Regions from separate parts of the Homo sapiens genome. Here regions 1, 2 and 3 are each reported to be linked to region 4. The links are microRNA targets in miRTarBase. Many come from high-throughput screens and were not tested one by one. Region 4 holds a microRNA gene; each other region holds the end of a gene's coding sequence. Distances are from middle to middle.
What was found. Region 4 holds the annotated microRNA hsa-miR-615-3p (UCCGAGCCUGGGUCUCCCUCUU, at 4,254-4,275, opposite strand). A microRNA usually pairs through its seed, bases 2 to 8, with sites in the 3' UTR of a target mRNA and lowers its output. Matches are read on the target gene's strand: a 7mer-m8 pairs with bases 2 to 8, a 7mer-A1 pairs with bases 2 to 7 and ends in A, and an 8mer does both.

Region 1 (7,115 bases), not on the chromosome of region 4:
TCAACCCACATTTATGACATGTCCACGGTGAGTACTTGGAGGATACTGCTTTTGGAGGCTGAGAAAGGCAGCAGAAGCTAGGGCTTCTCTGACTCTTTGGAGATGACCAGGCCCTGATCTCCTTTCCAGGTTATGAGCCGGAAGGGCCCGGCTCCTGAGCTGCAAGGTGTGGAAGTGGCGCTGGCGCCTGAAGAGTTGGAGCTGGATCCTATGGCCATGACCCAGAAGTATGAGGAGCATGTGCGGGAGCAGCAGGCTCAAGTAGAGAAGGAGGACTTCAGTGACATGGTGGCTGAGCACGCTGCCAAACAGAAGGTAGGCGCTTCCAGGGGCGCTGGGCTGGGTGAGAGCCAGGGACCCTGGCCTGCCGTTTTCAGTGGCATGGTGCCCTCTAGTGGTGAGAGTGAGGGTGGCCTCTGCTTGCTGCTCTGTGCTTCCTTAGATTTGGAAGTCTTAGAAATCCTCCAGTGGGCTGCCCTCTTTAAGGACGATGAGGGGGAGGAACTCAGCCAAGTCTGAGAGGGAGCTCGAAGAGAATTCAGATTCAGCGCCTTTCCCACAGACTTCTATGTCTATGTCAGGCTGCCCACCCTTGTTTTGGGGGTCCGGGGGTGGTTCAACCTGTCTTAACCTGTGTCTCTTTCTCCCTATACAGCAAAAAAAACGGAAAGCTCAGCCCCAGGACAGCCGTGGGGGCAGCAAGAAATATAAGGAGTTCAAGTTTTAGGTCCCCTCACACTAGCCCTTTTTTTGGCCCTACGTCTGGATGCCTGGGCTTCACACAAGAACCACCTCTCCCGCAGTTCCCAAGGACTTGTCATTTCATGTTCTTATTTTAGACCTGTTTTGTAAATAAAGCTGTTTCCCAAGGAAAGAGATGAATATTTAACACTCCTGAGCCTCCCTCATCTCCTTTTAGCCCCTTCTTGCAAAAGGACTAAAATAGTCTCTTTCTACAATCACTGGGCTGCCCCAGTAACCACGAACATAAACTGGGATTAGACGGCGCATTTGACTGGTGGTGACGCCAACCCCAGGCTGAAATCTGTGTTTCACCACTGCCCTGCTTTGTAGGAAGGCTTGGGGGAAGTACCTCTAGGTCTGGTTTGACCTTACTACTTTGTCCTTGGGGAGTAAAAATAGCCAGATTAGCGCCCTAGCGCGGCAGAGGAAGTAACAGTGGGCTTGGGAAGTAGGCCAGGGCAGGCCTTCCCAACTGACCTTGTGACCAGAAGTTCAAGTCCTTACCTGTGCGACAACATAGCTCAAAAGCTAAATTGTCTTGAGTCCATATGAACCCTTGGGTTCAAGCAACACTAGTCGCTGGGGTTTGGGATTTGTATGTGGGATGGGGGGACTTACTTTCTCCAGGTTGTAATCTGGTCCTGAGCAGCCTTTCTGACAGACTAGAGCAGGCTGGATCACTGGCTCCCATGGGCATTTGCCAGCCTGTGGGGAGGGTAGTCATGCGCTGCTGTTGTACTACTGTTGGTGTTTAAGTGCACCAGTGGAGGCGCTCACTTGCCGGAGGGTTCAAGATGGTCTCGGGGTTGTGGGGGGCATGATCCAGATAGGACGTGGCAGCTGAGCTAGGCCTTAGGAGGAATGGAATTTTAGAAATTTGGTAAGCAACAAAGCACTGGCACTCTAAAGAGGCATTTGGGGGGTAGGGAAAGAAGAGGAAGGTTGGCTCCAGATGGGCCCCGGGGTAGCTTGAGAATTCACTTATGCGAAGAACCTTCTGGACTCCAGGTCCCTGAGCCCCCGCTTGCCCTCGGGGCGGGAACTTCCCGGATCACAGGCACCCGCGGTGGCAGCGGGCCCCGGGTCTCCGCCGACCTCTCTGTTTGCCGGGGCCGCAGGGCAGGGCTAGGTCGGCAGGCGGAGAGCCGGCTTCCCCGGGCAGACCCCCACCGCTGGGGGCGGGTTCCGCATTGGCTCCGAAGACCCGAGGGGCCGAGGCGCGCTCCCGCGGCGGCCCCCTCCCTGCAGGGACCGAATCCCGGAAAAGCCGGGTTTCCGCTGGCGGGGCCGCGGCCGGCCGTGGGCGGGGAGGGGAGGAGCGGGGGCAGACTGGCAGCGGATTTGAGGGCAGGACCCGTGGGCGCGCGCTGGCCACAGACCACCCCTTCTACTCCGCGGGAGCGAGGGGCGCGCGTGGCTGCACGCAGGGCGCGAGCGCGCCCGGCCCGGCCCCTCCGCGCTGGGTGGGGCCGCGCGGGCCGGGCTCCCCGCCCCCTCCCGGACACGCCCACCCGTGTCGGCCTCGCGAGCCGCAACAGGCAGCGGCGGTCGAGCGCGAGGCCCGCGCGCCCAGAGGCCCCGCGCGTGCGTGCAGCTCGCTGGCTGCTCGCGCTCGGGCAGGCGGGCTGAGGAGGCTGCCGCGCCCCCGCCGCCGCCGCCGCGGGGGAAGCCTGGGAGCCAGATCGGCGTCGCCTCGGCCTCCGTAACCCCCGCCTAGCCGGGCCATGGCGGAACGCGGAGGGGCGGGCGGTGGTCCCGGAGGCGCCGGGGGCGGCAGCGGCCAGCGGGGATCCGGGGTCGCCCAGTCCCCTCAGCAGCCGCCGCCGCAGCAGCAGCAGCAGCAGCCGCCGCAGCAGCCGACGCCCCCCAAGCTGGCCCAGGCCACCTCGTCGTCCTCGTCCACCTCGGCGGCGGCTGCCTCCTCCTCGTCCTCGTCTACCTCCACCTCCATGGCCGTGGCGGTGGCCTCGGGCTCCGCGCCTCCCGGTGGCCCGGGGCCAGGCCGCACCCCCGCCCCGGTGCAGATGAACCTGTACGCCACCTGGGAGGTGGACCGGAGCTCGTCCAGCTGCGTGCCTAGGTGAGCGCGGGAGGGTGCGGCGGGGCGCCGGGGGAGCGGGGTGGCCGCCGGGGCCCAGCCCTCCCCGCCCCAGCGCCCATGGGGTCCCCGCCCTCCATCTCCCCGACTGTCCCGCGGCCCGGCCTGGCTCCAGCCAGGCCTCCCGGGACTCCTGCCACGGGGACCCGCCCTCTCCTGGCAGCCCCACCTTCTGCCTGGGGCCGGGACCACCCTTCTGTCCTCCCCGAGGGACCTTCTGGCCTCGGCCCCGGGCTTTCTCCGATTGGGCTGACCGAATCCGGCCTTCCTGGCAGTCAGTTTCCCTGAGTAAGTCACTCTCCTGCCTCGCCGGCGCCGGGAGCTGTACATACATGGATGTGGTATAGATCTCTTGATATTATTATTTCCCAATAGACTCAGCATGTGCCAAACTCGATTGTCACCTCTTGCAGGTAAAGCTCATATAATCACCCTAGGGGCTTCTCATTAGCCTTCGGCACACATGTTCATTTGAACTTCATATTACACACGTTCTGTCCCAAGCGCTAGGCTCTTAGTTTTGGGGCCCTATTTAATGTGTCCTCAAGTGTATTTTTACCTCCCCTCCCCCACTAAAACTGGTCCCAGAATCTCCCAGCTCTGCAGGGCTGTATGAAATTACTGCCTTGTTCCTAAATTCAATCCATTGCTCTCTGTCTGTTGGAACCATCTGGGGACTTTCCTTCCATTGGCAAAATAGGCCTGAGTTTGGGAATATTTTCTGTTTTTGTATTGGCAAGGCAGTCTGTCTCCAACTCTGGGGACAGGGTGCTGTGTCTTACAGTTTGCCACTTGAATAAGACGGTGTGTGGAGCTGGTTTCACCCAGAAAGCCCAGAGAAGTGCCTGGAGGTGTTCTTTTTTGTCACCTTGTAGCTGAGTTGATTCTGTTGCCTTGAAGTCTTGGGCTGTCTCCTCACTGTTGGTTAGGCAGACGGATGTGTAAGTCAGAGTTAGAGAGGATTGCTGGGCTCCCCCCTCGACTGTCTTCCTTTCCCCACCTTTATTCTGGATAATATTGTTTTATATATATATCCCAGATAGGAATGATGAGAGTACATCTTTCTGTTTCGCTCAGCTTAAGGAACAGAGCATTATCGCTTCTGTTGAAGCTCTCAGGGTGCCCCTTCCTGACTGTCTCCCCTCTTCCTTCTACAAAGGTAAACACTATTTTGAATTGTGTTTATCATTTCCCTTGTTAGAAAAAAATTAGTTTTACTACATAATGCATCTCTATATATTTTATAGTTCTGAATGTTCTTGAAGTTTGTGTACATGGTGTCATCCTGTATGTGTTCTGTGACTTGATTGGTTTTTTTATTTTTTTTTAAATCAGCATTAGGTTTGTGAGAATCATCCATGTGGTATGGTAGCCATAGTTTAAATATTTTCATGATGGGTAGTATTCTGTTGTGTGAATGAATATACCGTAATTCTCTTGAATATGTAGGTTGTTTCCTGTTTAACACCCACAGTAATGCACACATTTCCCCCCAGGACTCCTAGTGCTCTTGTGCAGAAGTTTCTTTAGGTTGTATTCATATGGAGGGGTGGGATTGCCGCTCGCAGGGTATAGATCTGGGACTTCACTAGGCAAAAGTAGATTGTTTCCACAGGCTGCTTCCACTCTGTGTTTCCACATCACTTAACAGATTTACACATTGTTTTTTTTTTCTCTGTCCTTTCTCTAGGGAAATCAGGAGCCACATTAATTTAGTTTGCTGTGGCCAGATCCATAGCACAACACCAAGCTCAAGCGAGAGTTGAGTATGTGATGGTGTTCCTCTCTTGATCCTAAGCAGGCCTCTCTCTTTCTATACAGGCCCATCTATCGCTGAAGTATCCTAACCCACCTCTTTCACACATAGAAACACTGTGTTCCTTCCTACGTGGGTCCAGTCTTTCCCATTTCTCCTTCACTTTCATGCCTGTGTTTGGTGACGTTTGGGCAGCTGCCTTCTCCATCTCGTTAGGTTGAAAAGGCGCGAGCCTACTGGCAAGGAGCTGCAGCAGAGGGGCGTGAATGAAATCATTGACTGCTGTTGATGTTTGGTCTGCCCCTAGGTCTTTTGGTCACTGCAAAGTCCACGTAATAAATTATTAGCCTAAGAAACAGCCAGGCATCCTGATCAAATGTATAATTATTATGCTAACTTGCTGTGAGAGGCTTAGGCGGACTTATTTTTACATTCCGGGAGTGTGCAGTTACGTCACGTTTACTGACCAGTCCTTGAGCTTGTCCACTGTCCTGCTCCGACATTGTTTTTCATCCATCACCCTTGTACCTCCTCACTCCTTGTGGAACACATGTGCTCTTTGAGCATTTTGCAGGCCAGAATAACACTCTGTGGGGAGAAAATGGCCTGCCATTGGTCTTTCCAATTATTAGAGTCATCTGGTTAATTTGAGGTCTCCTGGGTGTCCTTGTTCATGTTGTTTAGAATATATAGGCAACATGCAGCACTCTGTGGAGGGATTAACATTCTTGTCTCATGTAACTCAAACGGGACACAAATATATGAGATACATGCCCCTTAGAAATGTAAACATGATTGTGGATCTAAGGTTAGGTGTGCATAAGAATGTCATGGGATTTGGTCTCTTAGGGCAGAGAAGAGGGGCTCGAACAGTACAGTGTTAGGAAGGTCCTGCTGCTTTTCTTGATGCCTGTCAAAATATAATTTTCTTTTGAAAAAAATACCGTTTCCTGTATTAGATATTTAAATAAAGAGCAGTGTAGTTGTTCTTCAGGTAGGTGTCTGCTCTTATTTAACATCTGTTAAATTCCCCCAGAATACATAGTACTTTTGAAAAACTTTATATAGGTGAATAGCTTACTCACAGCTGGTTTTAAAAGAATGAAATTGTTCTGTTGATCACATTTTTCACCAGCATTTTTTGTTTTTTTTCTTTAGATGGAGTCTTGCTCTGTCATCCAGGCTACAGTGTAGTGGCACAGTCATAGCTCACTGCAGCCTCCAACTCCTGGGCTCAGCAATCCTCCAGCCTCAGCCTCCCAAGTAGCTGGGACTATAGGCATGTGACATCACACCTGGCTTTTTTTTTTTTTTTTTTTTTTTTTTTAAAAACAGGGTCTCACTATGTTGCCCAGGCTGGTCTTGAACTCCTTGCTTCAAACTGTCCTCCTACCTCGGACTCCCAAAGTGCTGAGATTACAGGTGTGAGCCACTGTGCCCAGCCTTTTACCAGCATTTTTTTTAAAGACAAAATGATTAATATATGTCCATGATTAGAAATTTGAGCAGTATGGAAAGATGGAAAGCACAAAGGAAAAAGCCCCCAGTCCATCCCTCTTCTCACTTCCCAGAGGTAATCACTGTGAAATACAGTTGGCTTTTAAGATTCTGTTACAAAAAGGTAGTTTTGCTATAGTTCCTTTATCTTTTATGAAATTCAAGCTTTAGAAGTTAGCATTGTTTTCCCTTCATGCTAAGTAGTACTTCCTCTACTATGGTCCAGTATGGCATGGACCGTGGTGCAGGGTTATGGGGACCAGGTGGCATGCTGCTTGATGTTAAAGGAAGGGTGTTAGAGCCTCATTGTTGATCCCTTCCCTTCTGCCTTTGTATGGTGAGGTTTCCCTGATGTTCTTTTCTTTTTGTGTTGCTGTAAGTAGGAGAGGCAGAAAAATTACTAAATTTTACAAGCATTCAAAATTTCCTCAGTGGCATAAAAGTGATTATTAAGAGATGAAATGTGCTCTGCTGTATCATTCGCAAACCATATCCAAAGCCCATTTGCATACCCTTATGTGTATGTGAACTTAGGGTAGGAGTTGGCAGTTATCAGTCACTTTTCTCCTTAGGTCACATTTTTTTTAAGTGGGTGCTGAGGTCAAGCCTTAATGGACAAAAGCGTTGGAATCACAGAAGGTGGCCATAGCTGAGTTGGCATGACTGGTCTGCAGCAGAAGTGTTACTTTCATGAAAACGCTTGGGGGCATTTGCCCCTTTAACCACAGAAGCACTATACGAGCCAAGATATACTACTCTATCTTCTTACTATATACTAGGACAAACTCTTCCATGCATTAGTTTAATTTTATTAATTTTTTTTTGGTGTTTTTTTTTTTTTTTTTTTGAGATGGAGTCTCGCTCTGTCGCCCAGGCTGGAGTGCAGTGGTGCAATCTCGGCTCACTGCAAGCTCCGCCTCCCAGGTTCGCTCCATTCTCCTGCCTCAGCCTCCCGAGTAGCTGGGACTACAGGCGCCTGCCACCACACCTGGCTAATTTTTTGTATTTTTTTGTACAGAT
Region 2 (7,115 bases), not on the chromosome of region 4:
ACCAGGAGTTACTAACCTGCCTGCCTTCCTCAGAGGCTCAGTGTTGAGTTGGAAGAGAGGGGTTTTACAGTGGGCCAGTCCTTAAGGTGGTGTGGGTGCTGGGCTGTGGTTGTGGCCTTAGGTCTGCTGGCGGGTGTGCTGCACCTCCTTGGCCTCCCCTCTCCTGGGCTCAAGGAAGTAAACAAGTCCTCTGTATGATGGGGAGGCCAGGACCTCTCGTCCCTTTAAGGCAGCTTGGTGCCTGCCAGTCACCTCAGCGGGCGGCAGTCAGTGGGCTTGTGTGCATCTGTAAACTCAGCACTTTGGGAGGCTGAGGCAGGAGGATTGCTGGAGCCCAGGAGTTCAAGAACAGCCCAGGCAATGTAGTGAGAACCCATCTCTACAAAAAAATAAACTAGGCTGGGTGCGGTGGGCTCACGCCTGTAATCCCAGCATTTTGGGAGACGGAGGCAGGCGGATGACCTGAGGTCAGGAGCTCAAGACCAGCCTGGGCAACATGGTGAAACCCCGTCTCTACTAAAAATACAAAAATTAGCCGGGGGTGGTGGCGGGCGCCTGTAATCCCAGCTGCTCGGGAGGCTGAGGCAGGAGAAGCGCTTGAACTGGGGAGGCAGGGTTGCAGTGAGCCGAGATCGTGCCATTGCACTCCAGCCTGGGTGACAAGAGCGAAACTCCGTCTCAAAAAAAATAAATTAGCCGGGCCTGGTGGTGCACACCTGTGGTCCCAGCTACTCAGGAGGATGGCTTCAACCCAGGACATCAAGGCTGTGCAGTGAGCTGTGATCTGGGCAACAGAGTGAGACCCCATCTCAAAAGGGAAGCTCGAGGGCTCTGCTTTGTGTGCTGGTGACAGTGTTCTCAAGCCAGTTCTGCCCAAGAGCCAACAGCTCTCGGGACCCCACGGCTCCAGGACAGGGCTCCTTCCCTAGAATGTGCTCTATCTCAGGAATCCTCTTTCGAGGATCTGTGACGGGATCTAGGTCAGGGAATGTCCCCCCTGTCTCTGGCAAGCCAGGCTCCCCTTGGCCAGCCAGGTCTCATCTGACACGTTTTCTTTTCCTGCCCCCACAGGCCTTAGCAGTAGGAGGACTAGGCTCCATTATAAGAGTTCTTACAGCAAGAAAGACTGTTTAAAAAAAATAAAAAGACTCATGTTACCTTGAGAAGAATTCTGGATGCCCAGGCTGGTGAAGAAGGGATTGACAATGGACCATCTTCCTAGGAACTCCCAAGTAAACTATTTCAGGACATGTATCTGCTGAAATGTATTTTATTTTCAAGGTGGAGGGGAAAATCGTCTGTTTCCTAAATCCTGTTTAGGATCTGATAGTCTATGCCTTTGTCTCCGAGTACTGCAGAACTGACATTTTGACGGTCTACCAGCGTGGCGGCTGGTGTTGGTCAGATGCACCTGTGTGCACTGGGGGAGGGATGGTTTGGGCAGGTGCAGATCCAAGGGCTGTGGTAAACGGGAGAGCTTGTGTTTTTGAAGTGGAAAAAAACCCAAGAGTTTGTACAGACATCCTGTCTTCCCAGAGAAGGTGGACACTCTTGGGCTCATTGTAAAGTGCCTGCTGCATCAATAAAGCTCTTGGCTTATTAGTCTATACATTGCGGTGTGTTTCGTGTATGTAAAAAAAAATGGTAATGAATGGGATGGTAATGAATGAGAGTTCAGTTGTTGTTCCGGAAACCCGATGTGGAAGGAGTAGACCTGTGTCCCTGTTGAGCCACCCCTGGGAGCGAGCATGGCAATCCACAGGCCCTCTGCCACAGGACGCCAGCCTCGGCCTCAGAGCTGCCGGCTGCTGCAGAGAGGTGTTTGCTGAATAAACTATTTATTGTTTCTTATTCCTTTGATTTGTATGTAATTAATTTTGGAGCTTATTTAATTAATTTAATAAAGTGCCAAACATTTAATAATTGATCTAGGCTTTAAAAGTCTTCAGTTTGTGGGATTGCACTTGGAATCTTTTGAGGGTGGGGCCTCAGATGTGCCTGGTCACGTCTCCTGATGCTGGGTTGGCTGTGCTGCAGAATCACTGCTGCATGGACAAGCTTTCTTTAAAGAACTAAACGTCAGAAATGGGGAGCAATCAATCAGCAAATAGATGGTATAATTTGGTTCCCCATAACCAATAACAGAGCTTCTCTGAAGGGCAAAAATGCTTTTCTTTCCTTTTCAGCACATGTGACTGCAGCTTGCATTCTGTTAAAGGTTAGGGCCCCATTCACACTCCAGAAGCTCCTCTGGGTCATACAGCCTTTGGATACAGACTTTGACCAAAGTGACACAGTCCTCCCCTCCACAGCTCTCCCCTCCTCAGTCCCTCTTCAGAACCACTGCAATTCTTGGGGGGGGTAGAATGGGGCTGTTGGCTTCATTAAATTACGTATATTTATTCACCCAAATCCAGTCTGGGAAGGTTCTTTCTGAAAGAAAGACAAACATTCTCTAGCCCTTGAGGTTGGCCTTGGAGTGTTAAATATGAGACACAAAATACCAGATTTAATGAGTCAAAGAAATACTGACACACCAAACTAGTAAAATCCATTGTAGTTGCATCTGGATTGAAGAGCTTTAATCAAAAAGTGTATTGCACCACAGATGAATTTGCTACAGCAGTTTTCAAGAATACAATCCCTATTTACAACATGGAAGGAGAGCTCAAGATCCATCGCTCGTATAAAGGGCTATAGATACCGTCGCTAACACAGAAAGTTTTATACAAGTCAAAGTGCATTAAATCACTTAGAATATTTATTCCACTCTTCCTCTTAAAGCTGAAGGAAATTCAACATGCAGGAGGAAAGCCTAGTCAGTGAAGCCTCCCTAAAGTGAGTACAGACCTAGGAACGGGCCCCACAGCTACACCTGAAACTGCCGAGGAGTGGGGCCTGGGGTGCGTGTGGGACCAGTTCAATGGCTGGAGAAGCCACGGAGGCAGCGGATGGGCTTCTGTGGAAATGTAGCTGCCTTTGGCTGGCTGTGAGCTACCCAGTCTTAGAGATTCTTTCCTGGAACAGTTGAAAAAGGAAATCCTACTTTGAAAAAAGGCTACCTCTTACCCATCAAACTTGCAGAACAGAAGAGACTCCTGTTTCGTGTTCCCACCAGGTAAATGGAAATTCGTGTTCTAAACAAGGGATAACTGTCTGCAAGGAGGAGCCAGAGGAGGAGGTTAGTCACTGGAGAAGCGGCCTCTGGAAGGCAGAGAGCCTGAGCTGGGACTAAGGAGATGCTGCCCTGACTTGGTTCTTCATGGAAATTTCGTTAGGTTAACGTTGCAAATGCGTGTTTTTCTGTGACACATTTTATATACCTATTTTGGCCCTAAGCATGATTGAGAAATACAACTTTCCATCACTGGATAATGGATAATAAATTTAGAGGCTCCAGTTATTAATTTAGTTTTTTATTTAACCAGTGAAACTTTCATCAAACAATAAACGGTTTCCTTTTAGATTCAATATTGTGGCTTTTCCAGAACCAGCATGTTCCCTTTCCTCAGTAAACGAGGAATCCATAAAACAAGTTTTTGTTGGTTACTACCAGAGTCATGTGCATGCTACAAGTGCTGCAGCCAGCTGGGCGCCGTCTGGGTGTAGTGTCATTTTAAGTATTTGGGGTGGGATGAGGGAGAGAGAGCAGCTCCACAGACAAGGCAGACTGCCCCAGTGTCTCCATCGAGGCTGGGGGACAGCTGCTGCCCCCACTGGAGACAGCGGACTGTCCTTCAGTAGAAGACAGGTGGTCTGCATCGCCCAGCGGCAGCGCAGCACAGAATCAAGACAAAGCACACGAGATCCCACTGCACTTCAGAGGGAGCAGTGCCAGAGTGCGAGTGAGAAGACAAAGGAACAGGAATCCTAGTTTTAGGAAGAATTTCCTCTGGACGCTCTGATTTTAAGAACACCAGTTAAATGGATTTTATAGTACAGAAGACATGTTTATAGTAGTGAAGAACTTCAGCTATAAAAAATAGTTTAAAATGGTTTACCAGCAACCTATCCAAGACAAGTACATTCATTAAAAAGGCAATTGAGTGTATTTGGTACTAAGGGTCTTTTCATATATTTGCTAGTTTTCTTAAGTAAAGTGGAGATACTGTCAGAAAGGTGCATTTTCTCATTCATCCACACCGACCCTTAAAGATGGATCCTCTAAAGTTCTAGGTGGTTTGAGAGACAGGGTGAAAGAATATTTTCTTGAGAGGAAGGGATAAAAAGCTTCTAACTCATCTGAATTTTTAAAAGCCACTCCCATAGAGTTCCCATGGAGTTGGCTGTTCCTGGCAGAGGCAGGTGGGTTTGGCCTGCTGGGCACCATCTCAAAGGGCCGTCTCTACCTCCAGTAGCAGCGCTACATGGTGACTCAGGTGTGCCTGCCAGATGCTGATGGCTTCAGCTGTAAGTGCTACCGTGAAGTTAGAGGATTCAGGTGCAGATGGGGTGCTGGCTGGAGCTGGGATATTAGCAGCACTGTGGAAATCTGGGTAGTGCCAGGACCCTCCTGTTTGGTGACCAGAATGACAGGATCAGCTACCCCCTGAGGTTCAGGTCAGCCTGCAGGGAAGTGGGCCTTAGTCTTGTAAACAATGTTTAGACACTTGTACAAAATACTGCAGTTACAGTGATTAAAAACCCACCCAGACTGGTGTGTCAGTGTTCTTTTCACAGAAAAAGTGTCAACCCACGGAGCTCCATCCTTGGGTAGTCCCCTCTAGGACCATGGTATCCGAGGGTTTGAGATAGACGGCCGGATGCTGCCCTTGGGAGCTGGTTTGGACCCAAACCATGACATCTGCATTTGAAACAGAAAAGGCTTCTGAGATGCAAATCAGGACTTGGTGCCAGGGAAACTGAACCGCCCCTCCCCTCCCGTGAGCCTGTCACTCCTGCCCCCCACACATCCTGCCTCTGGCTCTGAGCAGAGCAAGAAGATGGTGCCAGTAACCAGTCTGCAGGCCCGTGCTCAGTACAGGAGGGAAATGAGAGAAAAACACTGAGTTGACAGGAACAAGGTAGTGGAACTGCAGGTATTTTTTCCTATTAGAGCATTTATGCAGACGCTTTTGGAATTTGAGTGCCGAGCCAGACCTGGGGCTCTCGATAAAGCGCTATCAATGAAAATGCTTTGAAAAATACGTGGCCTGTTGGTCAAGTACAGCACAGACATTTGGGCACAAAGGATGTCATCGCTAAAAAGTGCTTGGATCAAGTTCATCCAAAAGCAGCCAAGCTGATCATGCAGCTGTGCTGGTGCCTACACTCGGGTGTGGGTCTAAGGGGTCTTACACTGCTACTGCTGGGATAACTGACAACGTATCTTGGAAGCTGGAACAGTAGACCAGAGAACCCTACCTTATATTCCAGAGTTTCCTTGAGCATGTTCTCCTCCTCTTGGGAAAAGTTCAGCAACACTGACACAGCTTTTATAAGATGAAAAGCCTGAAACACAGTAAGTTTTGCTGCCATAGGCCTTGGTGAAGGTGAGGCGGGGTGGGGTCGGGGGAGCTACGTGGCATTTCCTGCTTGCTTTGGTTAGCAGGACCAGGTGGTGGGTGACGCTCTGGCACTCTGAAGTTTGGCAGCAATGATAGGTTCTTTCTTCCCCTGCATCCTCGGGGGCCTGGCAGGCTTAAGGGAACTGCCCCAGCAGCTACCCTACCCTTTGGCAGGACCCAGGAGCGATGGGTGGATTCCGTTCCCGGCTTCCGGCCTCTGGCCTCAGCACCCAGGCCAGGATTTAGAAGTGGAGCCTATGTCTCCCACCAGGAGCCAGTTCCTGCACGGCCTCTCCCGCCAGCCGCTCACTCCGCAGGCCAACGCCAGCAGGAGAAATGACTGGGTGACCACAAGGGCGTCAAACCAGGATGTACGAGGAAAAGAGAGAAAGGGGCTGGGCAGGGGTCCCTGCAGGACAGACTGTAGGGCGGGGCCTCAATACCCAAAAGACACCTCAAAAGCCCTTTACCTCGGATTCGCGACAAGACATGAATTTTAAAACCACATGTTTAAGGTACTCAAAGTTGATCTCGCGGGCATCTGTCAGGTCAGTGTTATTCGTGACGGAAGGCGCCATGTTTGCCATCTCAGGTCCAGGTTTCTCCCGGACTTCGAAGAGCTCATTATCGGGTCTGATTTTCTGAAAAACCAGTGGGAAAGATGCTACACCGAACCCTCTGAGACAGGTGGAAAAAATCACACGGGAGGTTCACCTGGTCCAAACTATGATCACTATCGTAGGGCAAAAAGGGCCCCACCTGGGAAGGAAGCACCTCCAGGTAGGCTTGAGGAGGGAGTGACATCGTTTGGGTAAATTCAGACATTCCGTTTTCCATGGCAAGAACACATGTCCCTGGGGCCTGAAGCTGCTCGCATCCCGCATCAGGCCAAGCACTCTGCCACACACACACACTGTTAGAGCATCACTGCGCTGGCGTGGCAGGCAACCCCACTTCCAGATGAGGATGCAGGCTCAGAGAAGGCAGGAACAGGGCTGTAGCCACGGAGCTGCTTCAGAGGTGCATGCAGGCTGGCAGGCTGTCCCACCAGCTAACGTTGGATTGCCCAGCGATCCCTTGCAATTAATTAGGGGGTGGAGGGAGCATAGTCAGGCGGCGAGGGACCTCAGGAGGACCGGGCACAGGCAGCAGGGGGAGTGCTGGGAAGTGGGGCCAGCTCCCATGCGAGTACTCACCAGCTCCTTCTGCAGAGTCTTCCGGAGCTCCAGCATCCGCTGCTGCATCTGCTTTATGGTCTGCGACAAGCCCCACCCCACAGAAAGCCAATCGTTAGATGCATGTTTCACCAAAGGAAACAGACCCGAAGATCCCACGGGATCCCCTGTACACCTGTGAGGAGCCTCTGCCCTGAGAAGTCATCCTGAGAGGCTGGTGCTCAGCTGTCGCATGCTTGTGCCTACGACTGTTGGGCTGTCATCCCTCTTGGGCCACTGCTTTCACACGCTTGAGTCTCCACGTCCCACAGGGGCCACAGTCCCTCTGTGTTGACATGAGTGCCCCAGCGCTGCCTATCCCTTCCCGGGGGCTTGGTCCACCACACACAGCCCAGCTGGAAAAGGCTCTGGACCATAGATTTTGCCCTCAAAA
Region 3 (7,115 bases), 55 Mb from region 4:
AAAAAAAATGGAAGCAGCTCTGCCTCCTGAGTGTCCAAGGGAGAAGAGCCACCAAAAGCTGCCTGGGGTGAAGTGGACTGGGACATGAGCATGCACCTTGGAAACCAGCAGTACTTAGCCTCCAGGGTCCTCCCTCTCCCACCAGGGCTGGTGGGAGCAGGTTAGATGTTCTTTAGTGCACACCTCTGGCTTTACATTTCCTACTTGTACGGGAAGAGAACCCACCCAAAGTCCAAATCCTTTCCTGGTGGGTAACTTTTTTTTTTTGGTACACAAAGGACCACCCACAGGTGGGCCTGTTCTTGCTTACTGACAAAATTAGAAAGAAAACAGACTAGTTCCAGGAGGAACTATCATTTCTTCCTGTGGTCCTTTCTTTGGTGTAACTTGTCCAGGTTTTCTAGCAAAGAACTGAGCATGTAATAGATGCTCAATAAAGACTGGCCATGTCAATGACGATGATGATGACGATGTATCAGACTGTTTTGGCAAGGGCTGAGGAAGCAGTTTCCTTTTATATAAACTCAGTCATCAGGAATTTATAAAGAAAAAGTTTATTTTCATCACAAGAAGCACACACACTATATACAATACACACCAACAGAAGTAAAAAAAAAGTGCATTCTGCATCTTCTACTGCAAATTCACAGTACAAAAGATACTGCCTTTAAATATATTATTTAAAAAAACAAGAAGAAAAACAATAAAAAAAATCATCGATATCTTAACGCAATTCACGGGAACCCACTGGCAGCTTCTGGAAAACCAAACAACTCATGGTGTGGAGCTCCTGATTGGGGAAGGGACAGGGATTGGTCTGTACCTACATTTTGTTGCAAAAGAGCTCAGGACACTAACAGAGAGGAAAACTAGGGTGGTCTAGGTGGTAATAAAATCTCTATGAAAGAAGAGTATGATTGTGTGACTGGGGAATGGGCAGGTGCTGGACTCTGGTGCAGAGGCTGCCTGGCCTGCGCCACCCCACGGCTGGCTAGCAGACCAAGCTACGTTCTTTCATTGGCTCCTATGGGACACAGCATGGGCCAATGCCTGCCTGGCCTGCAGGAACCGCCAGTGTTGTTTCTAGCAAGGCTCCTTGGAATAGATGTGAACACACAATGTAAAACTGCATAGCAGGATAAACACGTATGGAGTAGGACAAGCTCACAACCCAATGCTGACCACTACTGACAAGACCAAGTATCCAATCATAACAGATGAGACTTTAACAGTTTTGCATAAATACATAGTATTTGTAAACTATTATTAAGGCACTCAATTGTAAAACAATAATTACAGTGTAGGAAAAGAGGGAGGAAGCAGCTATCTTCTCATGCAGCAAGGCCGACAGGAAGGACAGTGGAGGACTGGTGATCTGCTTATCGGGACTCCTGTCTGAGACAGTGACTGAAGCCGGGGCCCCAGCACCTATGGCCAAACAAGAAGACGGCAGTCTCTCCAGAACCACCCAGGGCGGCACTGGTCACAGTTTCATTCCAGATCGTTAAGGTGATTTGCTCTGTGGCTCAGGTGACACAGTGTGTCTGGATGCACATGATCACTTGACTCGGTTTCTATACTCAAATATACAGATGCAGAGTGAACTCAAACACACAGGCATTCCACTGCAGAGCAGATGATAACAAAACAAGTGGCTGGGGACAGGGGTCATTCAACAACCTTCATTTGGTTTGCAATGTCTGCAGGAATCTGGGTAGTGGGACCAAGACAAGTGAGCCTGCTCTGTGCTAGCCAGGTGTCACCAAGTTTCTGATCTACCCAGCTCTCTTGCCAGAGGTGAAGGGGGTCCCCTCGCTGAGTTGCGTGTTTAGAGGAGCCCTGCTAGGTGGCCAGCCAATGAGAAGAGTTTTGGGCAAAATGTATTCTGGCACCAACAATTTCCCACCAATGGAAGGCAACTCCCTCTCCAGATGCCTCAGGTGAGATGACTTAATAGGATCTTGACTAAATTATGTAGCATTTGTTCCCACTAGAGAGAAAAGGTCCCCAGGAGAGTGGTAGGGAAATTCATCAACCTTCTAGAATGGACTGCCCTCAGATAAGAGTGCATTAGTCCAGGGCCGTGCTGAGGGTCTGTTCTGTTCAAGCTCAGCTCCACACTGCTGCAAACTCTGGACTTCTCCAGGGGAAAAGGGCTTTAGATTACTGGAATGCTCTTTAGCTGAAGAGGACAGGGTGGAGCAGAATGGGCTTGGACAGTACAGCTGTCTGTGTGCACCTGGTGAGCAATCTGTATGCTTAAGCAACAGGGTGCCAAGGAGAAGGGCTTGCCACCCAGCAGAGAGCTATTCAACAGCCCAGAGGTTGGCTGGGGTCCCTGCATGGAGAGCAAGGAAGCAGGGAATGTAAAGAGAAATAAACTCTGCTCTTAGGAAATACATGCAACCAGGGACCTTGCTAGAAGGCTCGGAAGTAGCCGTAAGACAAAGAAATGGAAATCGGCATTGTCAATTACCATCCGAGAGCAGCCCCGGTTCTCCTCTTCCCGTGACCACTATCCCCCTTATACTTAGCAAGACTTAAAGAGAAGACTTTCCTGTATCAATGCAAGGTGAAGATGTAGAAAAGTTCAGTCTAACTTTTGGCATGCCACATGAATTAATGTGAGGCAGAAGATAAGATTCAGCTGTTTTTTATAAAGAGTATCAAGCTGATTTAGAAAATGTTCCTTTTGTCCCAATTCAACAAATGCATTCAATGAAAATGATAGTCATAAAAAACCAGTGACTTGCACAGCACAGACCCCTGCCTCCTCTGCCTGCCTCTTTCCTGTGCCACTTATGTTTGGAATTTTCCCCATCAGCTAAGGTTGCATACAAAGCAAGGGCCAAGCTATGGCATATGTTACAGTGCAAACTTCCTTTTCACAGACAGCATGAATTCGTCTTTGCCCAGGTGTCCCGACACCTGACAGAATGCTCATCTTGTTCATACAGCATTTTATTTTTTTGAGACGGAGTTTCACTCCCAGTTTCATTGCACCCAGGCTGGAGTGCAGTGGCGCGATCTCGGCTCATTGCAACCTCCGCCACCCAGGTTCAAGCGATTCTCCTGCCTCAGCCTCCTAAGTAGCTAGGATTACAGGCACGCACTACCACACCCAGCTAAGTTTTTGTATTTTTAGTAGAGACGGGGTTTCACCATGTTGGCCAGGCTGGTCTAGAACTCCTGACCTCAGATGATCCGCCTGCCTCGGCCTCCCAAAGTGCTAGGATTACAGGCGTGAGCCACCGCGCCCGGCCCCATCATACAGCATTTTAAATAGCCATGTGCCATCTGTTTACATGCAACTGATCTGGGTTTCCAAAAATAAACCTTACCCTTTTCTCCAGGCCAGGCTATTAAGCATCAAGTCCAGAATGCTTCACTCTGCTCTGTGGACGGGACCAGCGCTCTCGTCTGGATGTTGATATGCTAGCTGTGCTTCCAAAAATGAATGGGTAAGTTTGCCAGAAGCCAAAGACCAACTTGTACTCTCCAGATTCCACACCCCACCCCCCAACTCTTTAGATAAGAAAAATTATGGCTTTCAAAATTAAAGTTTTCAAAAATATATCATTCTCATACATAGACGTGGTTAAAAAACCAACAAAAGCCTGTCATCACTAAATTTAAAAGATTATTTTGACACAAAAATTGATCTACCACATGAAATTTGATTTGGCAAAACATACCGAACTTGATATTTTTTGAGGCTATGCTTTTGTTGGCTGAGGGAAAGGGGGAACAACCCACAGGGGTTTAGGAATAAGTGGATAATCACCTTTTAAGGTGATTTTAATTGACACTAGTGGGAAAACAGCTCCCTATAAAGTAATGTATGTATTTTTAAAAATCACTCCAAGGAGACAAAGTCCTGGAGGGAGGATTTTTGCAAAAACTGTGCTCACTAGGTAAAATATGAACTAGCCTTGTTCCTGCAGATCCCTCCTGGGGTGCTTTCTAGAATAGCTTTGGGGAACACAGTTCTGGCCAATGTTAAGATGATGGCTCACTCACTCACTTTCAGAATTCAGCTGGTCCTTGAAGGCTTTCTGGTTTCACTGAGTTAATCTGGCGGACCCAGCTGAGGGCAAGATGGAATTGTGGAAGAGCTTCAGCCAACTGTGTTCACCTGCCTTCCCCCATGTACGCAACCTACTCCATCCTGCACAGGTGAGGCTAGTGCGGGGCTGGCAAAGCTTGTGGTCGGGAGGAGGGAAGGGTCTGGCCTTAGGTGTCAGAGAGGCAGAGGGCTTCACATTTACCCAGTTTCTTCCTACAGGGCCATGAGCAGCCCTGTGTGGCAAATCAAACCAGGGGTCAGCAACTTTTTCTACAAAGGGCCTGACAGTAAGTACCTCAGGCTTTGTGGGCCACATGAATTCTGTCACATATTATTTCTTTTTTTTACAACTCCTTAAAAAGGTAAAAGCCATCGCTTGAGCCAGGGAGGTTGATGCTGCAGTGAGTCATGATTGCACTACTGTACTCCAGCCTAGGTGACAGAGCCAGGCCCTGTCTTAAAGAGGAAAAACCATTCCTAGCTCACGGGGCCACATGCCATAGTTTGCTGACCCCTGAATTCAACCTTTCTGCTTTTCTGCAAGCTGCCTCTCTCTCGAAATGTTTTGACATCTAGCTTGCTGACACCTTTGATTCAAGCCTGGCGCAGCGGGACTGGCTGAGCTCACCTGAGTCTTAAAGGGGCCGCCCACAGAGCCAGGCAGCGACTACAGATCCCTCTTATACTCCCTCACTGCTGCTGGGAAGAGCTGGAGGGAAACAGGAAGCAGTAATCTCACTGCAGGAAGGGGCAACTGTAGACATCCGGGAAGCATCCCGACAGTCCCGTTCCTTTCGGGGAAGCCGCTGAAATCTCCTTTCCCTTCCCTAGATGGGCCCTAGTGGACCTAAGCATCTGGGCTCTCAGCAGGACGATGTGTCTCAGAACCACCACCTGAGCCAGACACTTGAGCAATTTCAAACCTAAACACAATCATGTGTTTCAGCAGCAGACACTCAACAATGCAGGTGGGCCCTTCCCCTTGAGATTTAAACTTCAGCATTAGCAACAACTGAGAACAACCCATACATTTTCCCCACCGGACCCCTGTGCTGGTCAAACACGTAACAACACAACCAGGACAGGGCGCCTGCACCACCATTCGGGCACAGAGTCAGCTCAACAACAGCGTGGGACTACTCATCTGATGACTTTACTCAGCAGTGCTTGGGGCTGTCGGGTTAAAAGTCTTGACACGTCTGGGGTCCCAACCAAAACACAAAACGAAAAATTCTTTTTTTGGAAAAACGCTTTCAGACAGAGCATTATTCCCTGGAACAAGCCTTGGTCATTCGTGTGTTTTAAAAATAAAAAGCGCAGCGAGAACAGAGGTAGGACTTAATGTTGCCATCCGAGAGTTTTCTGCGAGGCCAAGAATGAGCTAGAACGTGTGCCGCGGTGAGGCTGCCACCACCAGGACTCTTCTGCAGGATGCGAAGGGAACAGTCTGGATGTGTGCGCCTATGTGTGCACGTTCTTCCTAAAACATGGTTCTTCTTGAAGACACGGTGGGAGCGGAGTTTTGTGTCTCCTGGCCGGCGGCTCCTGGTTCTCCCAGGCCACACGACTGACAGCTCCCCTTCTTGTGCTGCATGTTGGTTAGTTTCTTCTCCTCCTCTCTATGGCAAGAGTAGGGGAAAAGTTAGGATGACTTCACTCGTTTAAGGGAAATCAAGATGTAAGGGGTCGATCCAAATCCACAGTGAAAGTGAGGGAGGGATCATATGAAAATATCCGCCCAGCCTGACGCAGCAAAAGGCGGGTCAGCTTTTGCTCATCCACGAAGGGCTCTTTAAGTTTTCTGGGGCGGGTTTCCCTGATGGTTTGGAGGTTGCAGCTGGGTCCCTCGGGGTTCCCTGGGGCTCATGCAAGAAGGAAGATTCACTCAAAGTGGTGTCCTGGGAGTCAGCGACGGTGGACGGGTCAGCCTCACTGGACAGGTCTTCCGTTGAGAAGGTGAGACTCCCCAGCTTGGCAAGAGAGTGTGAGCGCTTCAGTGGGGAAGAGACGGTGAGGCCCGCCAGCCGGAGCCGGGTCTCAATCTCCTGTGTCCGCTGCTTCACCAGCCCGGGCTTCCCACGGACACTGTGGATGCTATCGCTGCTGGAGCTCCGGGTCAGGTTGGAGCTCATGGAAGAGGAGGTGGGGGTGTAGCAGATGGTCTTCAGAAAGTCTTTTGAGAAACTACTGGTGTGGTCCAGGCGGTAGAAGAAAGGAGGGGGGCTCTTCAGTGAGCCTCCTTCCAATGAAGCGGGGGCGGCCTCTGACTTCTCATCACTCCCGGCCTGGCTGGGCATAACCAGGGGGCCCAGCTCGTGGAGCGCGGCTGGATCCTGGCTCTCCTCGGGGATGCTGGCCTCCAGCCTGCTGGCAGGGCCATCCCTGGAGGGAGGTGCTGGGTCTGCAGGCACGCTCTTCAGCCGCTCTAGCTCTTTGGTGTGCTTGCGGACCAAGCCTGCCTTCTGCAGCTGAATGATGGACTCCTGGTGCTGCATCAGGTAGCTGTTGGTTGTCGGCTTCTCAGATTCATTACTGAACAGAAGCCTCAGGTCCTTGGCTGGCTTCATATCTTTCTTGGGTGACGATTCTTCCTTTATTACCACTTCTGTGCTGGGAGGGTTCTTATCACAGTGAGAATTCTTCAAAAGGAGGGACTTTGGCAGGACTTTTGGGGTCTCTCTGGAAGGTTCCAAAAGGCTGGCTGGTGGCTCTAGGGCAGCTCCAGCCCCAGGGCCACTGGTGTCTGCCCTCCTGGAGCCTGCTGGTGGTAGGAACGGGGGAGGTTCGGTTGGGCCAGAGGCTGGCTTCTCCGGAACACGGGACCTGCTGGCCAAGTGGGCCACAGGGGAGGACGTGATGTGGGGTAGGAAGGCTGGCTGGGTGCAGATGGCGGGAGCATTGGGGTCCTCACATCGCTCCCTGGAGGCCTCAGGAGCCCCGCTGGCTGTAGGGTACATGCAGTCGGCACAGGATTTATAGGAAGGCTTCACTTTGTTAAGGATCCCAAATATAGCATCATCCTGCAAGGAAGGGGACAAGAGCATGGTGA
Region 4 (7,115 bases):
TCTAAACAACCAAGGCCTCTCTACCCCAGTTGACTTGCAGTCAGAGAGAATAAGGAGTGGGAAGGGGAGGGCTGCTCAGGGTAGACAAGCTCCCCCATCTTCCTACTTCCCAGCAGCTTTTTCTGCTGCTTCTTCTCTTCTCCCACCCCAGCCTGGGAAGGCCTTTTCCCCCTCCCCCTAATAAGTGGGAGCTGCCTTCTATCAAGTGAGGGGGGTGGTTAGGTAAATGGGAGAAAGGGTCTGAGAGAGAGAAAGAGAGAATTAACTCACAGCGTTCGCCTGGGATTCATTTGCGAAGATGTAACCTCTCTCACCATCGTCCCCAGCGCCGTAATCCCCTCTAACTGCCAGGCCCTCTGTCCTAGCATTAAACCTCACCAGCAGCTGCGTGGCTGGACAGTTAAGATTATATATGATGTAAATATATTGTGGGTTTGTCAGCTCTCCCTACACCATAAAACTTGGTTTAATGATATCACGTGGTCCCCCAAGAGCCACTCACGGGCTTGCCTTCAGGCTATTCACATAAATAACCTCCAAAAGTTTCAAACTCCTAAATTCACATAGAAGCATGCCTATTTCTCTAATGCTCAGTTACACTAAAAAGCCCTGGTGCTGTTCCTTTGCCCCACCCCCACATCCCCCTTGCAGGGTGGAGAGGGGGGAGAGGGTGGATCCTTATTTATTTATTTACTTACTTATTTCCATAAGGACCTGTCGCCTTCGAGGTCGTGTTGATCTTTTTGTCCTCTTATTTTTTCCTCCTCTTTCCTCTAATTGCTCAGAGTGGGCCGTGTCCCCCCTCTTCCCACTCCCCCGGGAAGGTAAGTCATGCTTCTTCCCCTTCTTTCTTGCTGCCAGAGGGGGTGGGTTCCAGGGCAAAGTGGAGAGGCAGGCTCCATAGTCTCTGCTTGCAACCCAGAAGACCCCTCCATAAACTCCCCCAGAGCAATGCCAGACCCTGTTACCTGGAAATATGTTCTAGGAGGCTGGCTGGTGGGGAAACTACCCCAGGCCCCAAAGCAGAAGCCCCTGTTCAGGGAGAAATCAGGGATCTGGGCCTTATGCACCCTCAGCGTAGGGAAGTAGGTACGAGGCCTCTGGCTTGGTTGCCGCCGCTGACTCCCGACGATGCTGCAGAAGCCAAGGCTGGTGCCTGGGCAGACCTGCAGATTGTGACAGGAAGGAGGAGGGCAGGCAGGCACTCTGTGTCTACCCAAGCCAAAATGAGTCAGACCTTCAGCTCCTCCAGGGAAGGAGAGGCCCAAACCCTGCCGGGAGGAGGCAGTCAGTGCACGGTGGGGCTGGTGTGCCCTGCCTGGCAGCTCTAACCAACATTGCCCCTATCTATGACAAAGCCCTTGGTTTTCCCCTGGGGTGGTGCGCCTGTCCCCTGGGGAGGAAGCACAGGGCCTGGGCAGCCTGGGAGGCTGGAACAGGTGGGTGCGGGTGCCACAGCCTCTTTCTTAGTTAACTGTTACCCACCGGAGACGCCAGTGCTTCTCCACGCTTCACTGCTCACTCAATAGTTTTACTCAGCATGGAGAAAAAATTAAAATAACTCCCTGAAGAAAATTACACATTTTATTTCAGAGAGAGAGAGAGAGAGCACTGGTCTGGGTTAACTGCTGTGTGCAAGTTGAGGAGAGACAACAGGCGCCCTAACCTGGCCTGAGTGCAGTGCGAAGGGGAAGGGTGGTAGTTGTGGGCACTGTTCAATAAGCATTTGTTGAGACTGCCTATGTGCCAAGCATGGGGTGAGGAAAGGCTCTTGGGTCTTTTAAAAAATGACTGATGGGTAGCTTAGGCAGTGGGATGCAGCGAAGTTAGTCCTTATAATAAATCCAAGGAGCATCAGCATTAATAATCATAAATATTCCCCTGCCCCTCCCCAGAGCCCCTCTGCTCCCCTTTCTTCTTGGCTGCTGGTGCAATCCCTTAGCCAAGCTCCAGACCCTCACCCCACCAGTGTGGGGGGCCTAGGCTTGGCTCCAGGAAATCACCCTGTTGTGGGAGGTGGGAGAGGAAATGCAGTAAAGTTTTATGGACCCTTCCCACATTTGTTTCTACTGTAAAGTGCTTCCTCCCCCAGCCCATCCCAGGAGCCTGGAGAAGGACCTGATCCTCAGACACTACCTGAATTATCTGCCTCCTCCCACCCCCACTTTTAACCCATCCTCCCCTCCACACAAAATCCCAGAGACTGAGATAAATGATGGCAGACAGACGTGACTCCAGCACTGGTCTATGCAGCTCCTTTCCCAGTTAATTGTCCTGCATAGCCCGAGGCCCTAGAAGGTGGTGGAAACAGTCTGAACATTTCCTGCCAGGCTGATACACACTGCAGATTGTCCTCCCTGCTCCCTCTTCCCCAGTATCTTAGATACTGAGGCACACCTCCTCCAACTCTCCCAACACCCCCTTACCAAGCAATACCACCTCCCTCTAGAGGCCCTTATGAGACCAAATGGGTCCCTAGAGTGAGGGCTCAGCCCTCCCTCTATGTCCAGCAAGGCCTCTCAGGGACCACCTAGGCCCAGGAAAGATCTTCAGAGGCCCAGAAGGTCCTAAGGCTGAGCACGGTGGAGCCACTGGTTCCTGCACCGCAGCTTTGGCACACAGTGGGGGCTGCTGCCAGTCCAGAGGCCTCCTGGAGTGCAGAGGCGTGAAGGCCTTGGACAGCCACAGCATGGGAAAAGCCAGTACTCGAGGCCTAGGTGCCCTTCTCTTCCCCCAGAGGCTCTTGTTGCAGCCAAGGAACAGGAAAGGAGCTCAATTTCACCTCCCTCTACTCACTGCCCCTAGAAGCTAGAAAATTTTTTAAAGGGGTGGCTTAAAGTTTGTGGGTCTCCTTCTACATCTCACAGCCCATTTAGACAATTTTACCCAATACATGCCCCAAACAGACAGGAGCCACTGCATCTTTAGTCCTGTTCTCTCTTTATTTGATATGACAAAATATAGTTTCAGGAAGGACCCAGAGTCAATAAATAGTTGGACAACAGCAATGGGTCAGGAGGGCACAGAAATTCGTGGCAGGGACTATGGGACAGCAAAGGGCCTCTAGGACCACTTGCTGGGGTCCAGTGCCAGGAAACCCCACTAGTTGAGCTAGCTAGCAGGCTGGGGCTGCCGGCCTGAGAGGGCATGCAGCAGGCGCAGGCTGGGGAGGTTCCCGGGTTTTGGGGGGAAGAGGTTGTGGAGATAAGGTTTGGAAAGCATAGAGCAACTGTGGGGGCCCTAGGCCGATGCTCTCCTTTCATATGCAAATCATTCATAAGTGAAAATCTAGTTTAGTCGCTACAAGGAAGCACCCCGAGTCTAGGGCCAGACTCTCGCCAGCCTTTGGCTGTCTAACCCGTCCAGCCGGGAACAAAGGAGAGGGCGAGGTTAGAGGGTCCGGCGAGGGTCCTGTGGCGCGGGCCGGGCCCACCTTAACTCGGGAGGGCCGCGCTGAGGCTGGGAGCCGGAGATACGGCCCAGGCCAAGGTTCGTTCTGCGCCAGCCTGTACGCCGCAGCCCTCCGGGGAAGTCCTGCGGAGCTTGCCCTGGGCCCCGGGTACCGAGCTGAGCCGAGCTGAGGGGAGATGGGGCAGCGCCGACAGCCCCGCGGGAACCCTGGGTCGGTAGGGATGCGGAATGCCAAGGAAAAGCGCTTTTGTCTGTGGGGCCCGGGAGCCCAGTGCTCCAGCACCTGCCCCCGACCCGAAATATAGAGAGGAAAGGCGAAAAGGAAAGGCGCAGGGACAGGAACCGGCTAGGGGCGCGCTCTGCGGGCCTCCCCCGCTGCCTCTAAAGAGCCTCTTTGCTTTTCATTTTGGAATCTTTCTTCCACTTCATCCTGCGGTTCTGGAACCAGATCTTGATCTGTCTCTCATTGAGACACAAGTTGTTGGCGATCTCTATGCGCCTGCGGCGAGTGAGGTAGCGGTTAAAGTGGAATTCTTTCTCGAGTTCCAGAGTCTGGTAGCGCGTGTAACTGGTTCGGGACCGCTTGCCGTCCGTCTCTGGAACATAAACCCCACCCCAAGCCAGGAAGGGGTGAATAGCTTGCAGCGTTCCCCCGTCCCCACCCCAGCCCAGGCCCCCACCCGCGGCCGGAGGGAGAGGAGGCGAGAGCCGCAAGACAGGCCACGCGGGCCGCAGGCGGGCCAGCCCAGCCCAGCCCCGGGAGAGGCGCCTCCGCCCAGGCAGGAAACTTTCCACCGCAGCCTTCACTCTGCAGCCGGAGGGGCTGAGGGGGGGTTGGGGGGAAGAGGGAGACCCAGGCTCGGACCGAACAATAAGCACCCTCGAGATCCGAGCACCGGGGACCCCCCTCCCGCCCCTCCCGAGTCGCTGGAATCCTCCGGAGCCGCAAGCGCCGGCGGAGCCGGCTCCGCAGGGGAGGGAGGGAGGGAGCCGCGGGGGGATCCCCGCTCTGGAGCCCCGCGCTCCTCACCCTTCAGATCCCTCTATTTTTTTAACTCCCTCCCTCTCCCCCAAAAATTGAATATTGCCTTTTATACACGTTTTGTTCCTATGATCCAATTATGTCGTCGTAAATTTGGGCGCACACAGCCTCTAAGCCTTTTAGTGGACAGTTTTACGAGCCATTGATGCCTGGATCGTAAAATTTATGGCCGCAGGTTTTTTTTCTTTATTTGCCCCGCATGGCCTATAAAACCCAGGCGGACCCGAGAGCGCAAAATGAAGTCCTAAAGTTTACCGTGGCTCATGTGCAGTTTGGTCATCCACGGGTAAATCTGTGGCGGGGCCGGTGGCTGGCTCAGTCCGGCGGGCTGCCCTGTCTGCGCCTGCTCCTCTTTGATCTCCCCACTGCTCTTAGCTCGCTCCTCCAGCGCCGGGCGAGCCGCCTTCTGACTGTACATCCCGGGGTTCAGAGGAGCCGCTTCGTCTCTGCCCGGAGCGTGTCCCGGAGCGGCCGCGGCGCTGCAGGCGGGGCGGTCGGGGTGAGCCCGGGGGTTGGCAGCCATGTCTACCCCGTGGAGAGAGTTGGAAGGCGCAGGCGGTGGGAAAGTGATGCTTAAGTCCAATCCGCCGTAGCAGTACCTGGATGCCTGCACCTCTGAGGCCGATCCATAGTTCCCACAAGTTTGCATGTTATAGGCAGGGATATTGGGGCTCTGCTTATAGAATGAATTGGCTACGTAGGAGCTCATGGCGGGGAGGGCCCAAAAAAATTTCTGCACCCTTTTTGATTAAGGGTGATTTGTGACTCTTTGAAGTTGAGGGGTTTTTTGTTCTCCAAAGTGGACAATTTATAGGTGGAGATATCTCTTTCTTTATCCTATGCGCTCTTCCCAAATAAGGGAGCCTTAAATAGAGTCACGTGACTCGAGCGGCCACTCATAAATTTGGCTTGATGACCTCCGGGAGGTTAGTGATGGAAGCCGGCGAAAAGCATCTCGATATGTTGGCAAAGCCCAACCAAGGGGGAGAGGGAGTGAGAGAGAGAAAGAGGGAAGGGGGAGGGAAAAAAAAAAAAAGGTTCTTGGAATTGGGGGTAGCCGGGACAACAAGCCCACAGCGACACCTGGTGCCTATGTGGGGGAATTGCATCCTGGAGCGCCAGCTTGCTTTCCGGTGGCTGGATTTCCTACACTGTGAAGGAGAAGCTGGTTGTTGGGGCAACCCCTGAGCTAGCCTTTTAAATTCTATTTAAAATTGGGAAAAGACGAGGCCCCACTTATAACGCACAGAGTGCTTTTTGTAATGAAAGTCCCGTTCTCCCAACCTCCAGGGTCTTCCAATCTTCAAAAATGGCTGAGGAAAGGGGATTAAGTTAGGTAAGGTGGCCTATGCCCAGGCTGGAGAACCAATGGGGTTTAACTTAGGTTCCCTAAACCAAAGGTAGAAGTCCCTTGCCTCTCAGGCCCTAAGGCTCCACTACTGCTGAAGAGGTGCCTATCAGCAAGAGAAAGTAGAATTAGCTTCTGAAGAGGTAGACAGGACGCCCAGGAGGAGGGATCCTGAGTGGTCAGAACAAGATAGGGGGGTCATGAAGCTGAGGGTGTTGCAGGCTGTTTGGGATGGATCTGGAGGTGAGGAGCCAGGTGGAGTTGGCTAGACCTCACCATGCTAGGGTCCCCAGAGTGGCAACAAGGCAATTTTCAAGTGTGTGTGTGGACACGGACAGAGCCAGACAATGGTCTAGAGGACTGCTCTGTTTCCCTGTGTGCGATCCTTATGTGGTACCTATGCCAGAGGTTTTAGACAGAAAATAGATGTTAATTGAGGACATGGAGAAGCAAGATTGAAGCCTCCACAAATATTACGTGAGCATGGCAGAGGAAAAGGCCCGTTATGTGCCCTTTGGGGAAAAGGTCTCTGGGCTAGGCTTTCCAGGGACCTGAATCCATAAGGTTCACAAGAGAGCAATTTCTGAGCTACCAAGAGGAATGGGGCGGACCTGGGGGGTGGGCAGGGCAGGCGCCTGGGTAGCCTTCGCAGGGTATCTGCAGCCATTCGGCCCCATCCTCTTCCCCCGTAGCCCCAAGTCTCATACTTCCCTGCCTGCTTCTTCCCAGGAAATCTCCGCCCCGCCAGGAGAAGGCCCCCTCCTCACTGGTGGAGGCACTGGAGGCGAGGGTGGGGGCGCTGGAGGGAATCTGAAGGGCCCGGAAAACTCTGGCGGATTTTTTCCCTCCGGAGACCCTCCTCAACACCTCTCCCTGTAGGCCCACTCAGGTTTCTCTGGCCAGGCTTGGAGAGAGAAGGCCAGGGTTGATAAATGGTTAGGGTCCGGCTGCGCTCCTCACCCGCCTCTTCACCCGTTTGAGGAGAGAAAAGTAAGGAACCAGCCCGGCTGGAGCTGTAATGAAGAAGGAATTTTGTCCCGGCCACGTCAGGAGTACCAGAGCAGGCGAGAGCTCAGTTTCCAGGCTTTCTCTCTCGAGATGTCCTTGAATCGCTCAATCCCTGCCGACAGGGCTCCAGTCCCGCGGTCTTCTCTTTCCCTCCGCTCTCCGCCTCCGCTACGTTTCGCAACAGCCAGCTTGGCGCGGGCCTGGGGCTTGCTCTCACGGCGCCCCCCGCCTCCAACTCCCGGGAGTGGGTGGAGGAGACCCTGGTGCCTGGATAGTGCTTCTTTACTGGTCTTTCGGGGCGCCTCA

Region 1: miRTarBase lists SF3B2 as a target of hsa-miR-615-3p. The part of its 3' UTR that is shown has no 7-base or 8-base seed match.
Region 2: the mRNA of ARPC5L is a reported target of hsa-miR-615-3p. The part of its 3' UTR that is shown has no 7-base or 8-base seed match.
Region 3: miRTarBase lists SSH1 as a target of hsa-miR-615-3p. The part of its 3' UTR that is shown has no 7-base or 8-base seed match.

What each region holds. Positions count from the first base shown.
Region 1 is chr11:66,068,019-66,075,133 of GRCh38, forward strand. SF3B2 (splicing factor 3b subunit 2) reads left to right here. Exons shown (of 22, transcript NM_006842.3): 20 at 1-27; 21 at 130-315; 22 at 656-1,290. The coding sequence ends at 727. PACS1 (phosphofurin acidic cluster sorting protein 1) reads left to right here and starts at 2,254. Exons shown (of 24, transcript NM_018026.4): 1 at 2,254-2,824. The coding sequence starts at 2,469. RefSeq lists an enhancer at 107-266 and silencers at 357-406, 1,814-2,433, 2,444-2,493, 2,644-2,773, 2,784-2,933 and 1 more.
Region 2 is chr9:124,875,807-124,882,921 of GRCh38, forward strand. ARPC5L (actin related protein 2/3 complex subunit 5 like) reads left to right here. Exons shown (of 6, transcript NM_030978.3): 6 at 1,072-1,927. The coding sequence ends at 1,134. It overlaps GOLGA1 (golgin A1), which reads right to left. Exons shown (of 23, transcript NM_002077.4): 20 at 6,704-6,763; 21 at 5,978-6,148; 22 at 5,365-5,451; 23 at 2,469-4,804. The coding sequence ends at 4,724. Among named protein-coding and RNA genes, the nearest start is that of ARPC5L, 17 kb to the left of the region's middle. RefSeq lists an enhancer at 4,978-5,531.
Region 3 is chr12:108,782,159-108,789,273 of GRCh38, forward strand. SSH1 (slingshot protein phosphatase 1) reads right to left here. Exons shown (of 15, transcript NM_018984.4): 15 at 1-7,086. The coding sequence ends at 5,830. Among named protein-coding and RNA genes, the nearest start is that of MIR619, 51 kb to the right of the region's middle.
Region 4 is chr12:54,031,170-54,038,284 of GRCh38, reverse strand. It overlaps MIR615 (microRNA 615), which reads right to left and starts at 4,335; the gene lies at 4,240-4,335. HOXC5 (homeobox C5) reads right to left here and starts at 5,235. Exons shown (of 2, transcript NM_018953.4): 1 at 4,709-5,235; 2 at 2,924-4,007. The coding sequence starts at 5,162. The coding sequence ends at 3,793. It also overlaps a transcript of HOXC4 not described here. RefSeq lists a silencer at 4,137-4,196 and enhancers at 4,280-5,431, 5,426-5,720.